2 linked regions of the Homo sapiens genome follow. The protein of the gene in region 1 purifies or fractionates together with the protein of each later gene. This does not show direct contact. Each region holds a gene or a part of one and is shown on either strand. Other genes may lie near its edges.

Evidence for each region.
Region 2: the proteins of ATP5F1C (region 1) and MTCH2 fractionate together in Homo sapiens (co-fractionation; 2 studies listed by BioGRID). This does not show direct contact.

Annotation. Positions count from the first base shown.
Region 1 is NC_000010.11:7,798,177-7,805,204, forward strand, and holds part of ATP5F1C (ATP synthase F(1) complex subunit gamma, mitochondrial isoform L (liver) precursor), read left to right. Parts: intron 1-813; coding exon 814-1,018; intron 1,019-1,254; exon of another isoform or gene 1,255-1,325; intron 1,326-1,595; coding exon 1,596-1,739; intron 1,740-1,850; coding exon 1,851-1,915; intron 1,916-4,093; coding exon 4,094-4,249; intron 4,250-4,581; coding exon 4,582-4,678; intron 4,679-7,028.
Region 2 is NC_000011.10:47,618,560-47,625,587, reverse strand, and holds part of MTCH2 (mitochondrial carrier homolog 2), read left to right. Parts: intron 1-2,811; coding exon 2,812-2,887; intron 2,888-6,668; coding exon 6,669-6,755; coding exon of another isoform or gene 6,756-6,788; 3' UTR 6,789-7,028. UniProt on the Homo sapiens protein: Protein insertase that mediates insertion of transmembrane proteins into the mitochondrial outer membrane. Catalyzes insertion of proteins with alpha-helical transmembrane regions, such as signal-anchored, tail-anchored and multi-pass membrane proteins.

The DNA of each region.
Region 1 (7,028 bases):
AGCTGTCCTTTGTTTTTTTATGTGTGTGTGTGTGTTTTGTTGTTGTTTTTTGTTTGTTTTCTTTTTGTGTTTTTTTTTGAGATGGAGTCTCATTCTGTTGCCCAGGCTAGAGTGCAATGGTGCAATCTCAGCTCACTACAACCTCCCCCTCCCAGGCTCAAGCGATTCTCCTGCCTCAGCCTCCCCAGTAGCTGGGATTAACAGGCCCCCACCATCACACCTGGCTAATTTTTGTATTTTTTTTTTCTGAGTCGGAGTCTAGCTCTGTCTCCCGGGATGGAGTGCAGTGGCATAATCTCAGCTTGCTGCAAGCTCTGCCTCCCGGGTTCACGCCATTCTCCTGCCTCAGCCTCCCAAGTAGCTGGGGCTACAGGCGCCCGCCACCACGCCTGGCTAATTTTTTTGTATTTTTTAGTAGAGACGGGGTTTCACCGTGGTCTTGATATCGTGACCTTGTGATCCGCCCGCCTTGGCCTCCCAAAGTGCTGGGATTACAGACGTGAGCCACCGTGCCCAGCCAATTTTTATATTTTTAATAGAGACGGGATTTCACTACGTTGGCCAGGCCGGTCTCAAACTCCTGACCTCAGGTGATCCGCCCACCTCGGCCTCCCAAAGTGCTGGGATTACAGGCGTGAGCCACTGTGCCCGGCCTCAGCTTACAGCTGTCCTAAGAACACCTGCTTACACTAGGCAGTTGCCAGCTAAATTTAAATGCGTATTTTGGAAATAACCAACTGCTTTGTAAATTAGAGATTTATTGTATTTAGTGTATTGCATATAAAAAAATTACTGCTTTTGTTTGTTTTTAAGCTCTGTATGAAAAAGCTGATATCAAGGGGCCTGAAGACAAGAAGAAACACCTCCTTATTGGTGTGTCCTCAGATCGAGGACTGTGTGGTGCTATTCATTCCTCCATTGCTAAACAGATGAAAAGCGAGGTTGCTACACTAACAGCAGCTGGGAAAGAAGTTATGCTTGTTGGAATTGGTGACAAAATCAGAGGCATACTTTATAGGTAATTTAAATATATATTGTTTATTTTCATAAAGATGTAAGCACGAATAAATCTTCTCTCAAAAGTTTTGACAAACTCTCAAAACCTTCATCAATAACAAGGTATATTCTTCAGGGCCTTTTTTGGTATATTCACAAGGGGGTGTTTGTTTCCTTTTTCTTTTTTCCAGGATATATTGGAACATTTCTGTTTTCCTTCCCCTGTTTTCTACCTTTGCTTCTTCATCCGGATCATAAGTTGAATGCCATGTGAATATCAAAAGCTATCAGCATTAAGCCAAATGAGGCATCTGAGGAGCTGTTACAGCCTGGAAATGTTAGCAATAGTTCATTAGGATTAGAAGGAGAGGAATAAAGGGGAAAAGAATATAAAACAGACCTCATTTTTAGTTCTTAGTTCTTTGCAGGTGCTGAAGGAAAGGAATGATGATAGTGTGTGGAACAACTCAGGAAATCACCACCACCCATACCCCAAAAGACCTGATCCATGGTGACAATGTTTTCTCCTGCCTGTCCCCTGTGCTCTTTCAGCAGAAATCTTATTAAACTAGCTATGTGAGCTCTTGCTTTTCTTATAGGACTCATTCTGACCAGTTTCTGGTGGCATTCAAAGAAGTGGGAAGAAAGCCCCCCACTTTTGGAGATGCGTCAGTCATTGCCCTTGAATTACTAAATTCTGGATATGAATTTGATGAAGGCTCCATCATCTTTAATAAATTCAGGCAAGACAGATTTAGAAATCAAAGCTTTTTTATGTTCATGCTTTTGTTCATATTTTGAAATAACAGTTTAAAAATTATTTTGAGATTTACATTTGTTTTTGTCAATTCTAGGTCTGTCATCTCCTATAAGACAGAAGAAAAGCCCATCTTTTCCCTTAATACCGTTGCAAGTGCTGGTAAGTAGTTTTTCTATGATACATATTTTTTGGCATATAGAATGGAGAGATTTGTACACTAAGGCAGACAGTGTCAAGATATCTGGTGGTAGCTATAGCAAATGATTTGGGGCTGTTTCTTTTTTAGATGGAATCTTGCTGCCTCCCAGGCTGGAGTGCAGTGGCACCATCTCGGCTCACTGCAAGTTCCGCCTCCTGGGTTCACACCATTCTCCTGCCTCAGCCTCCCTAGTACCTGGGACTACAGGCACCCGCCACCAAGCCTGGCTAATTTTTTGTATTTTTAGTAGAGACGGGGTTTCACCATGTTAGCCAGGATGGTCTCAATCTCCTGACCTCGTGATCCACCCGCCTCGGCCTCCCAAAGTGCTGGGATTACAGGCATGAGCCCAGCCTTTTATTTTTTTATTTTTTATTTTTTGAGACGGAGTCTCACTGTGTCACCCAGGCTGAAGTGCAATGGCATGATCTCGGCTCACTGCAACCTTCGCCTCCCGGGTTCACGCCGTTCTCCTGCCTCAGCCTCCCAAGTAGCTGGGATTACAGGTGCACGCCACCACGCCTGGCTAATTTTTGTATTTTTAGTAGAGACAGCATTTCACCGTGTTCGCCAGGCTGGTCTTGAACTCCTGCCCTCAAGTGATCCACCTGCCTTGGCCTTCCAAAGTGCTGGGATTACAGGCATGAGCCACTGCACCCGGCCGATCTGGGGCTGTTTCTGAGAAGTGCCATCTCTTGACTTCCATGATACTTAATTCAGTCATTGTTTGATAACTCCTGCTCTATTCTGTCATTAATTGAAAAGTCAGTATCTATTGAGGTTCATCATTAGATTTTTTTGTCCTCAAGGATTGAAGAGCGTAGCTAGAAACTGGCTTTGCAAGTTATGTTTGGGACCTCTAACTACAATAAAACAGAAGCTCTAGAATAGAGAGTTGAACAGTGTTCACAGCTAATTTACATTGACTGACTCAATTCTCTTGTTTTATTGTTGGAATAAAGTCATCATTGATCATTGAAGCATCCTGGAATAATATTCTGGAACTGATTTTAGTTTTCTAAGGCTTTTTTCCCTTGTATATACCATCTATTTTCTAATACTTCATTTATTTTCAAGTATGTACTTTACACGTTAATGTTTCTGAAATTGAGATGGCTCTACCAGCCAATGGAACATCATTTATAATTGAGTACATTTTTTTCTCTCTTAATGAGAAATAAAGTAGGTGTTACAACCAGTACCATTTAATGAAATATAGTATTTTGATAATATATAGTACTGTGTCACCACTTGACCCCAATGAATGAATTTTGAAATGTACTTCTAAATTTCTACAACATTAAAACTACGATTCATACCAATTTCTAGTTCTCCCACTCTTTCATGTGCTTTGAAAGGTTTTCCCTCTCTCATTTTCCAGATTGATACATTCAGATTTCTTCAGTAATCAAATGACTAAGTTGGAATTACTGCACAGGTTGAGTATCCCTTGTGTGAATGCTTAGGACCAGAAATGTTTGGGATTTCAGAATATTTTCATATTTATAATGCAGTATCTTGGGGACAGGACCTGAGTCTGTACACCCTATACACATAGCCTGAAGGCAATTTTATGCAATATTTTAAAGAATTTTCTGCATGAAACAAAGTTTCAAATGCACCCCATCACACAAGGTCAGGTGTGGAATTTTCCACTTGTGGCATCACGTCAGTGCTCAAAATGTTTCAGATTTTGGAGCACTTCAGATTTTGGACTTTGGGATTAGGGATGCTCAACCTGTATTACACTAAATTCGTTTCAATTCATTATTATTCTTTTTTACTGGAAAAAGCATTGAGTGCTTGCTGGCTTTGTAACAGGCACATGCTAATGCTGTCCAGAGGGCTTCATAACCACGAGATATAGTGCAGTTATTTCAAATGTTGACCTAATTTTTCTAAAGTTACACATGTGGAGTAGAATATCAAATGGTTTATTTACACATTATATTTTGCTAAAAATATGCTATCATCTGTAGTGTGGAAATAGATGACATTATTAGAACAGATTCATTTACCTTATCTAGCATTAATTTCTGCTCTGTAATTATAAAGGAGTTTTACACTGAAAAGCTGTTTTTGATGAATTACTATTCCTTCCATATAACTTGAAAGAAACTCATCACTTGTTTTAACAGACAGCATGAGTATCTATGACGATATTGATGCTGACGTGCTGCAAAATTACCAAGAATACAATCTGGCCAACATCATCTACTACTCTCTGAAGGAGTCCACCACTAGTGAGCAGAGTGCCAGGATGACAGCCATGGACAATGCCAGCAAGAATGCTTGTAAGTACACAGTATGGACAGTGCCAGCAGGAGTGCTTGTGAGCACACAGTGAATCTCAGCTGAGAGGAGTCCGTGGCCGAGAGTAGCATCAACAACATTAACATGATATTCCTGTACCTGTAAGAAAGTATATCTTGATAGGTAGTTGATTTGCAAGTACTGTGAAAAGGTATCCTATGGAAGATGTAAAAATATCTTCATAACATTATTTGAGAGGCCAATTTTGGTATCCAAAAATTTCTTACTTTTAAATTAAGCAACAGAAGTTAGTTAACAAGTTATTCTACTCTAGTTTCAGATTTTTTATGTAGTGTTTTTGTTTTGTTTGTAGCTGAGATGATTGACAAATTGACATTGACATTCAACCGTACCCGCCAAGCTGTCATCACAAAAGAGTTGATTGAAATTATCTCTGGTGCTGCAGCTCTGTGAGTAATTGTAGATTGTCGCCTTCAGAGAATTTTTTTTCCTCTTGCTGTGTCTGCTTGTTTGGATGCTTAAAAGTTTTTCGTTTTTTTCTTTTGAAGTTGAAACTCATTGCTGAAACTTGCATCCTAACTCTTAGGCTATAAAGATGTGGTAAAAATGGGACCTCTTTGCTTTATTTTTATTGTTTCAGCTGGAAACACTCGGGCTTAGTTTTCGGTTTTCTAAAGGATTAGGAATGGGATGTGGATAATTCAGTATCATTTATGAAATCTTTTTTTGGAATTTAAACAATTGTAAGCCAAGCTTTCTGAGTTACAGGGCTAGTTTCAGATTTGGTTTTACATAAATCTATAAACCATTGCATGTTGGGAAGGTCCAGGAATTTTTTAATCATTATGTTTTTTAATCATTATGTTTTCTATATCAGTACCAAAAGATAGTATAGCCATCCCTCAGTATCTGCAGTGGATTGGTTCCAGTACTCACTCTCACCTCCCCCAGGATACCAAAATCTGAAGATCCTCAAGTCCCTGAAATAAAATAGCACAGTACTACATATAAAAAATGCACATCCTCTCGTATACTTTTAATCATCTCTAGTTATAATGCTATGTAAATTGTTGTTGTATTGGTTTTTGTTTTTATTATTTTATCATTATTTTTGTCTTTTTTCCAAATATTTTACATCGGCTGTTGGTTGAATCCATGGATACTGAGGGCCAACTATATACTGCTTTCCTCAAGAAAATTTCTTAGTTGTTGAAAAACTTTAATGTTTATGAAAAAAAGGTTAAGATAATGGGAATTTTATTCAAAAAGTTATTAAGTTGAATACCCACTATGTGCACAGTACAGTGCTAGACACAGTGTTAAGGATGTGATTCTCTCTTTTAAGGCACTTATATTCTAATAGGATAAGAAACATACAAGTAATTGTGATTAGATAAAACGTGTAGTAAGTTCTTTTTGACTCGTTCCTTCTTACCTCCTGCTAATCAGTTACCATGCTCTTTAAGTTTTACCTTCTAACTATCTCTTGAATCTTCCCCCTTCTTTATGCCCACTTAATGCAGATCCTTGTCATTTCTCTCCTGGGTTCAAAAAGGTAATTATTTGAGTGCCCCTTAAGTGTCAGGCCCTGTGCTAGACACTGAGGATACAGTGGTAACAGTATTTGCCTTCAGAGAGCTCAGTCTTCACAGTAAAGGCAGACACTAAATAAGAAGTCACAGCAGAACAGAGGTTGCTAAACTGTGGCCTGGAGCTAAGAATGGGTTCTGCATTTTTAAAGGGATATAAGAAAAAGGAGAGTGATAGCGTGTGACCCACAGAGTGCAGAATACTTGCTGTGTGGCCCTTCACCGAAAAAATTTGCCTATTCTTGTGACAGTGTTATGAGGAAAATAACAAAATCCATTCTCTGTTATACACTCATTCTGCAGAAACACTCGATGTATGTGATCCTATATTTTCTGGTCACCAGCACTCTTCCCAGTCCAGTCTCTTACCATTACCATTTCTCACGTCCTTGAACCTCAGCCACCTTGATCTACTTCCAGATCTACAGATTCGTCACTCTTTCTCGCGGCCAGGGAGTGGCATGTGCTGCAGCCTGAAAAGCCACTATTTCTTCCCTTGCTCCCTTGATTCTTCATCTGACTGCCTCCTGTGTATCCTTCCTTACTCAGCTGGGGGAATCCTTTCTTCCAGAAAACACTCCTTCCTTCAGTCTGAGTGAGGCAGCCTTCTGCAGCATCCTGTCTTCCATTTAGCTTAGCTCTTACAGCCTTGTATGAGGAATTGGCTTTTTATTTGTCTGTGTGCTCCTCGAGGCTAGGATGGGACCATATCTTATTCACTTTTGTGTCCCCATTGCCTGGTACATACCTCCTTCGTGAATGTTGAATGAATGAATGAAATGCCATATGTATTCAGAACTGGAAGTTCAGAAGAGGGACAAATAACATTTTATTGGGTGTATGAAAATGTGGGTCCATGGTTTTAAGAGTCAGGGAAAAGTTCATCACTATTTAAAGTGTTCCTTAAGTGTTACTTTTCAAGGGCAGAAACTGGGCAGAATGCCAGAGAGACACAACTAGAACTTTTTGAGCCAACAGAGACCTTTGTGTAAGTTGTTAGTTGGATCCATCAGCCTCGCTATCCTAAGCATTCTTCTCTTATTTTACTTTCTAAGCACAGCTGTGTTAGGACTAACCCATTCACAGCCTGGTCACCAATGTTCTATCAGCATCACAGAATACTGTCTCATGGTGTCTAGCTTGATGAACTTGGTTAGGATACTCTCTCTGTTACTCAGCTTTGTCATCTGTAACATGGGGACTAATACAA
Region 2 (7,028 bases), on another chromosome or scaffold:
ATGATCAGTATCAATCTCTGATTGGTATTTTTTTAAAAAGGGGGGGAGGAAAAGTATAATTGATACCATTAGAAGATTCCTAATTTTTTTCTTTGTATGCCCTATGCAGCAGCAGCCTCAATTTGTATTTATTTATTAATTATTATTATTATTTTTTTTTTTTTTGAGATGGAGTCTTGCTATGTTGCCCAGGCTGGAGTGCAGTAGCATGATCTCGGCTCACTGCGACCTCCACCTCCTGGATTCAAGTGATTGTCCCGCCTCAGCCTCCTGAGTAGCTGGGATTACAGGCATTCGCCACCATGCCCAGCTAATATTTTTGTATTTTTGGTAGAGACAGGGTTTCACCATGTTGGCCAGGCTGGTCTCGAACTCCTGACCTCAAGTGATCCACCCGCCTCAGTCTCCCAAAGTGCTGGGATTACAGGCATGAACCACCATGCCAGGCCAATTACTATTATTATTTATAGTTTTTGTTTTTGTTTTTGTTTTTGTTTTTTGAGACAGAATCTCACTCTGTCACCCAGGCTGGAGTGCAGTGGTGCAGTCTCGCTCCATTGCAACAGACACCTCCTGGATTCAAGCAGTTCTCATGCCTCAGCTTCCCAAGAAGTTGTGATTACAGGCATGTGCCACCATGCTGGGCTAATTTTTGCATTTTTAGTAGAGATGGGGTCTTGCTATGTTGGCCAGACTGGTCCTGAACTCCTGACCTCCGGTGATCTGCCTACCTCGGACTTCCAAAGCGCTGGAATTAAAGGCGTGAGCCACTGCACCTGGCCTATTTTTATTTATTTTTAATTTTTTTAGAGATAGGGCTGCAATGTGGTGGTGAAGTCCTAGCTCACTGCAGCCTTGAACTCCTGAGCTCAAGGGATCCTCCCATCTCAGCTTCCCAAGTAGTTGGGAGTACATGTGCATGCCACCATGCCTGGCTAATTATTTTTTGTGAAGACACAGGGTCTCACTTTGTTGCCCAGGCTGTTCTTAAATTTCTAGGCTCAAGTGATTCTCCTTCCTCAGCCTCTTAAAGTGCTGGGATTACAGGGGTGAGCCACCATGCCCAGCCAACATATTGTTATTTTAAATCTTTATCTTTTCTATGAAAGTGACAAAAGGTATATCAGGGATTAAATGACAATCCATACCTGTTTTTCCTAGGGGCTTTATGGAGAAAGTGAGTTTTAAAGAACCAGAATTAGGATATTTAGTCTATGGAAAGTTTGATGACCTTTTCTCTGTATTGGTTAGAAGGGCAGGTTTTGGTATAGTGGTAGACTCCATTGATTTCCAAATTCTAGATGCCAAGTGACTCTACTGAGTTGGGCAAAATTTTGCCTTTTTTTTTTTTTTTTTGAGATGGAGTCTCACTCTGTTGCCCAGGCTATAGTGCAGTGGTGCAATCTCGACTCACTGCAACCTCCACCTCCCAGGTTCAAGCAATTCTCCTGCCTCAGCCTCCTGAGTAGCTGGGATTACAGGTGCCCACCAGCATGCCTGGCTAATTTTTTGTATTTTTTTGTTGTTGTTATTGTTGAGACAGAGTCTTGCTCTGTTGCTCAGGCTGGATTGTGGTGGCGCGATCTTGGTTCACTGCATCCTCCACCTCCTGGGTTCAAGTACTTCTCCTGCCTCAGCCTCCAGAGTAGCTGGGATTATAGGCACTTGCCACCACCCCCGGCTAATTTCTGTATTTCTAGTAGAGACAGTGTTTCACCATGTTGGCCAGGCTGGTCTCGAACTCCTGACCTCAAGTGGTCCACCCTCCTCGACCTCCTAAAGTGCTGGGATTACAGGCGTGAGCCACTGCACCCAGCCTTGCCTTTTTTGTTTAATTCAAAATTCTTTTCCCATATGGTACCTGACATATCATTAAACATGTTACTGTTTTCAAATAAGATCAGATAGCTATGTGGAGTTTTGAACATTTTACATTGTTTGTTTTCTGGTTTTGTTTGTTTCATGTTACTCCTGGCAAGCTGTGATGTTTTCTGATACGTAGAGCAACTGCCATTTTTTAGCACAGTGTAAACTTGAAGGATGAATTAAATGTATTATTATTATTTACAGTTTTTTCAAGATGAAGTGATTATACCTAAGTAGGAACATATATATCTACTGTTTATATCCGTTTTCATGTTTAGTATCTTTGTGAACACCAGTTAGTTTTTAAATCTCCTTTCCCTGCTCTTTTTTTTTTTTTTTTTTTTTAAAAAAAGACTGGTTCTTACTCTGTCACCCAGGCTGGAGTGCAGTAGTGCAATCTTGGCTCACTGCAACTTCCGCCTCCTGGGTTGAAGCAATTCACATGCCTTAGCCTCCCAAGTAGCCGGGATTACAGGCATGCGCCACCATGCCAGCTCATGTTTTTGTATTTTCAGTAGAGATGGGGTTTCACCATGTTGGCCAGGCTGGTCTTGAACTCCTGACCTCAAATGATCCACCTGCCTTGGCCTCCCAAAGTGCTGGAATTACAGGTGTGAGCCACCGTGCCCGGCCACCTTTCCCTGCTCTTTAATCATGTAAATGCTGTGTTCTGGAGTTTCATTTGTCCACAAAGGAAAAGTCTAAATGTTTTAGAAATTAAGGTTGAAGTTTATGTTTATTTATTTATTTGAAACCTAAATATAGGGGAGGAATTCTCTTTTGGATGCTTGATCGTTCCCCTGCTTCAATATGATTTGTTTCATTGAACTAAAATGATCTCTCAGGGAATCTTCTGTGCAGCAGAATATTTTGACAAGGTTTATCAACGTCTCAAGAGAATGGTTAATATTAACATGAATAGCTCCATGTTTTTTTCTATTTTAGTCTTGCTGGTGGATGCCCTCCTTACTCCCCAATATATACGTCTTGGATAGACTGTTGGTGCATGCTACAAAAAGAGGTATTTCTTTTTCTCTGTCTCTCTCATTTTATTTTGTTTTATTTTTATTTATTTGTTTTCTTAAATATTGTCTCTGGAATCCCAAGTTAACTCTTGTAGCTCACTTTAGCTAGAGTTAGTCTAGTCTGCCAGTTAATGTACACTTTACAGTGTTCTGTGTTTTCACTTTGGCATAATAGTAAAATGTGATGTTTAGAAATCATGAGCAGGAGTAATGAAGAAGAAAGAATCCCTAGATGAGACCTAGAAGCCATTTGAGTGCCCACATTCAACTTACAAATACGATCCAGGTAGATTATTATCCTGGTAAAATGATGGCCTTGATTTTAGACTCTTTTTTTCCCCCAAACTCACCTTTCATAACCACTTATTTGTCACAGTGGTATTGACAGAGCTGGTCTTATACTTCTAGAGTCTTGTTAGTGGATGATTTTGCCTAGATACCAATTTAGGGTTTGTTATTACTATGAGGTGTATAATCTGCAACAAAAAATTATTTATTATCTAGGCAAAGCTTTATTGGAAAATAAAATAATGGGCTGGGTGCAGTGGCTCACGCTTATAATTCTAGCACTTCGAGAGGTCTAGGTGGGCAAATTGCTTGAGCCTAGGAGTTTGAGACCAGTTGAGGCAACATGATGAGACCTCATTGCTACAGAAAATACAAAAACTTAGCCAGGCATAGCACCTATAGTCCCAGCTACCCAGGAGGCTAAGGTGGGAGGATCACCTGAGCCCAGGAGGTCAAGGCTGCAGTGAGCCAAGATTGCATCACCGCACTTCAGCCTGGGTGACAGAGTGAGACCCTGTATCCAAAAAAGGAAAATAAAATAACGGCTAGGTATGGTGGCTCATGCCTATAGTTCCAGTTACTCAGGAGGCTGAGCCAGGAGGATCACATGAGTCCAGGAGTTTGAGGCCAGCCTGGGCAACACAGCCAGACGTGTCTCTTAACAAAAAACTACAGGCCAGGTGCAGTGGCTCACAGGTGTAATCCCAGCACTTTGGGAGGCCAAGGCGGGCAGATCACTTGAGGTCAGGAGTTTGAGACCAGCCTGGGCAACGCAGTGAAACCCCATCTCTACTAAAATACAAAAGAAATTAGCTGGGCGTAGCAGCGTGTGCCTGTAGTCCCAGCTACTGGGGAGGCTGAGGGAAGAGAATTGCTTTAACCCAGGAGGTGGAGGTTGCAGTGAGCCAAGATTGTGCCACTGCACTCCAGCCTGGGTGACAGAGCAAGACTCCATCTCAAAAAAAAAAAAAAGACAATAACAACAACAAATGGATTGGCTGTGGGCTAAATTTAGCACAGGATCACTTAAAATGATTATCAGTTTAAAGCTGTTTTTGAAGGGGGGTCCACTTCTTAAAAGATTGTAGAAGAAAGCGTATAAAGAAGCTCTTTGTTGCATTATTTTATAGCACTAGTGATATATAAGAGAAAGGCCTTTGAAATCTGAATGAAAAGGCCTAAGTGTTGTTTGTAGTTGCTCTTGCTTAGTGTGCCCACAAAGCCCCTCTGTGAATCCAAGCTTGAATACTTGAATGATTTCAGTACAGACCTACTATGAACATTGTGCATTTCATTCTGAGTTTTACTCTCTATTGTACAGTGTGGTCCCTGTTTAAATGGAAAAAATGGCCTTTCCTTCCTTCCTTTTCTGACTAACACTCTGTTATAGGAAGAAAGCAGACAGAGAATGGATTACGGTGTCAAACACACTTAAAGTAGGAACAGTTGTTCCTGTAGGTGCTTACAACAACAGCAAATCTTGATTGGGCATTTACTGTATACCAGATATCATGCTAAGAGCTTTTCTTACATCAGCTCATGTAATCCTCAAAACAGCTGTGTGAGAATAGGTGTCATTCTTAATCACCCATTTCACATATGAAGAAACTGGGGCTTAGAGCAGTTTAGTGCCAATTACATAATGCAAGGTCACATGGCCTATATTTGGGAAGGCTCAGATTTATACTCCAGAGTGTACTCAGTTGCACTCAGAACATTATTACTTTATTTTTATTTACTTATTTGGTTCTTTATTTTTTAGAGACAAGCTCTGTCGCCCAGGCTGGTGTGCAGTGGTGGCATCACAACTCACTGTAGCCTCAAACTCCTGGGGTAAAGCAATCCTCCTACCTCAGCCTCCCAAGTAGCTAGGACTACAGGCATGCTTCCACCATGTCCTGTTAATTTTTTTGTTTTGTTTTGTTTTTGAGACAGGGTCTCACTCTGTCACCCAGGCTGGAGTGCAGTGGCATGGTATTGGCTCACTGCAACCTCTGCCTCCTGGCTGAGGTCTCTGGCTCAAGTGATCGTCCCACCTCAGCATCCCAGGTAGCTTGGACTACAGGCACATACCGCTAAGCCCAGCTCATTTTTTTGTTTTTTGTTTTTTGTTTTTTTTAATTTTATTATTATTATACTTTTAAGTTTTAGGGTACATGTGCACAACGTGCAGGTTTGTTACATATGTATACATGTGCCGTGTTGGTGTGCTGCACCCATTAACTCATCATTTAGCATTAGGTATATCTCCTAATGCTATCCCTCCCCCCTCACCCCTGTTTTTTGTTTTTTGTTTGTTTGTTTTTTTGTTTTGTTTTGTTTTGTTTTGTTTGAGACGGAGGCTTGCTCTGTCATCCAGGCTAGAGTGCAATAGCACGATCTTGGCTCACTGCAACCTTCACCTCCCAGGTTCAAGCAATTCCCCTGCCTCAGCCTCCTGAGTAGCTGGGATTACAGGTGTCCGCCACTACGCCCGGCTAATTTTTGTATTTTTAGTAGAGATGGGGTTTCACTATGTTAGTCAGGCTGGTCTCGAACTCCTGACCTCAGGTGATCTGCCTGCCTCAGCCTCCCAAAGTGCTGAGATTACAGGCGTGAGCCACCATGTCTGCCCAATTTTTTGTATTTTTTGTAGCAACGGGGTTTTGCCATGTTGTGCAGGCTGGTCTCAAATTCCTGAGCTCAAGTGATCCTCCTGCCTTGGTCTCTCAAAGTGCTAGGATTACCGGTGTGAACCATCACACCCGGCCTTTAATTTTTTAATTTCTTGTAGAGATGGGGTCTTACTATGTTGTCCAGGTTGTTATTACTTTGATTATAAGATTTTATAAGTAGTCCTTAGAAACATGATTTCATTTCATTAAGAAATAAATAGGCCGGGTATGGTGGATCACACCCGTAATCCCTGCACTTTTGGGAGGCCAAGATAGGCGGATCACTTGAGGTCAGGAGTTTGAGACCAGCCTGGCCAATATGGTGAAACCCCACCTCCACTAAAAGTACAAAAATTAGCCAGGCACGGTGGCGCGTTCCTTTCCCAGCTACTTAGGAGGCTGAGGCAGGAGAATCGCTTGAACCTGGGAGGCAGAGGTTGCAGTGAGCCGAGATTGCACCACTGCACTACAGCCTGGGCAACAGAGCGAGACTCCATCTCAAAAAAGAAAAACAAAGAAATAAATGAAAGCTAGCACTTACTGAATGTTAGGCACTGTTCTACATGACTCATTTGCTAAGCCAGCTGGAAAGTGGCAAAGCCAGAATCCAACCTGGGCGTTCTGTCTGCCCAGAGTAAGAACTTAATAAGGAGAAATTGTAGTTAGTTCATAGTAGCTCAGCCTTTCAGAGAATACTAATCCTTGTTCTGTAGTGATAGTCCCAGTTTTGTCCTAGATTTAGTCACGTCTCCCAATTGGACCTCTCTGCTGATTTGGATTGGCTGATCTCATCTCGCTAGATATTATTTGTGTTTTGTTTTGTTTTGTTTTCCAGGGGAATATGAGCCGAGGAAATAGCTTATTTTTCCGGAAGGTCCCCTTTGGGAAGACTTATTGTTGTGACCTGAAAATGTTAATTTGAAGATGTGGGGCAGGGACAGTGACATTTCTGTAGTCCCAGATGCACAGAATTATGGGAGAGAATGTTGATTTCTATACAGTGTGGCGCGCTTTTTTAATAATCATTTAATCTTGGGAAAATTCAGGTGTTTGGTGTCTGCCTTTTTTGTTCTTTTTTCCAGCACAACATAACTTACCACTGATACTCCCCCTTTAGTTATTCTGAATTAGGATATTTTTGCTCCAAATTCTTATTTTACTTAACCAGAAGGGAAAAAAAGTTGTATTTTCCTGA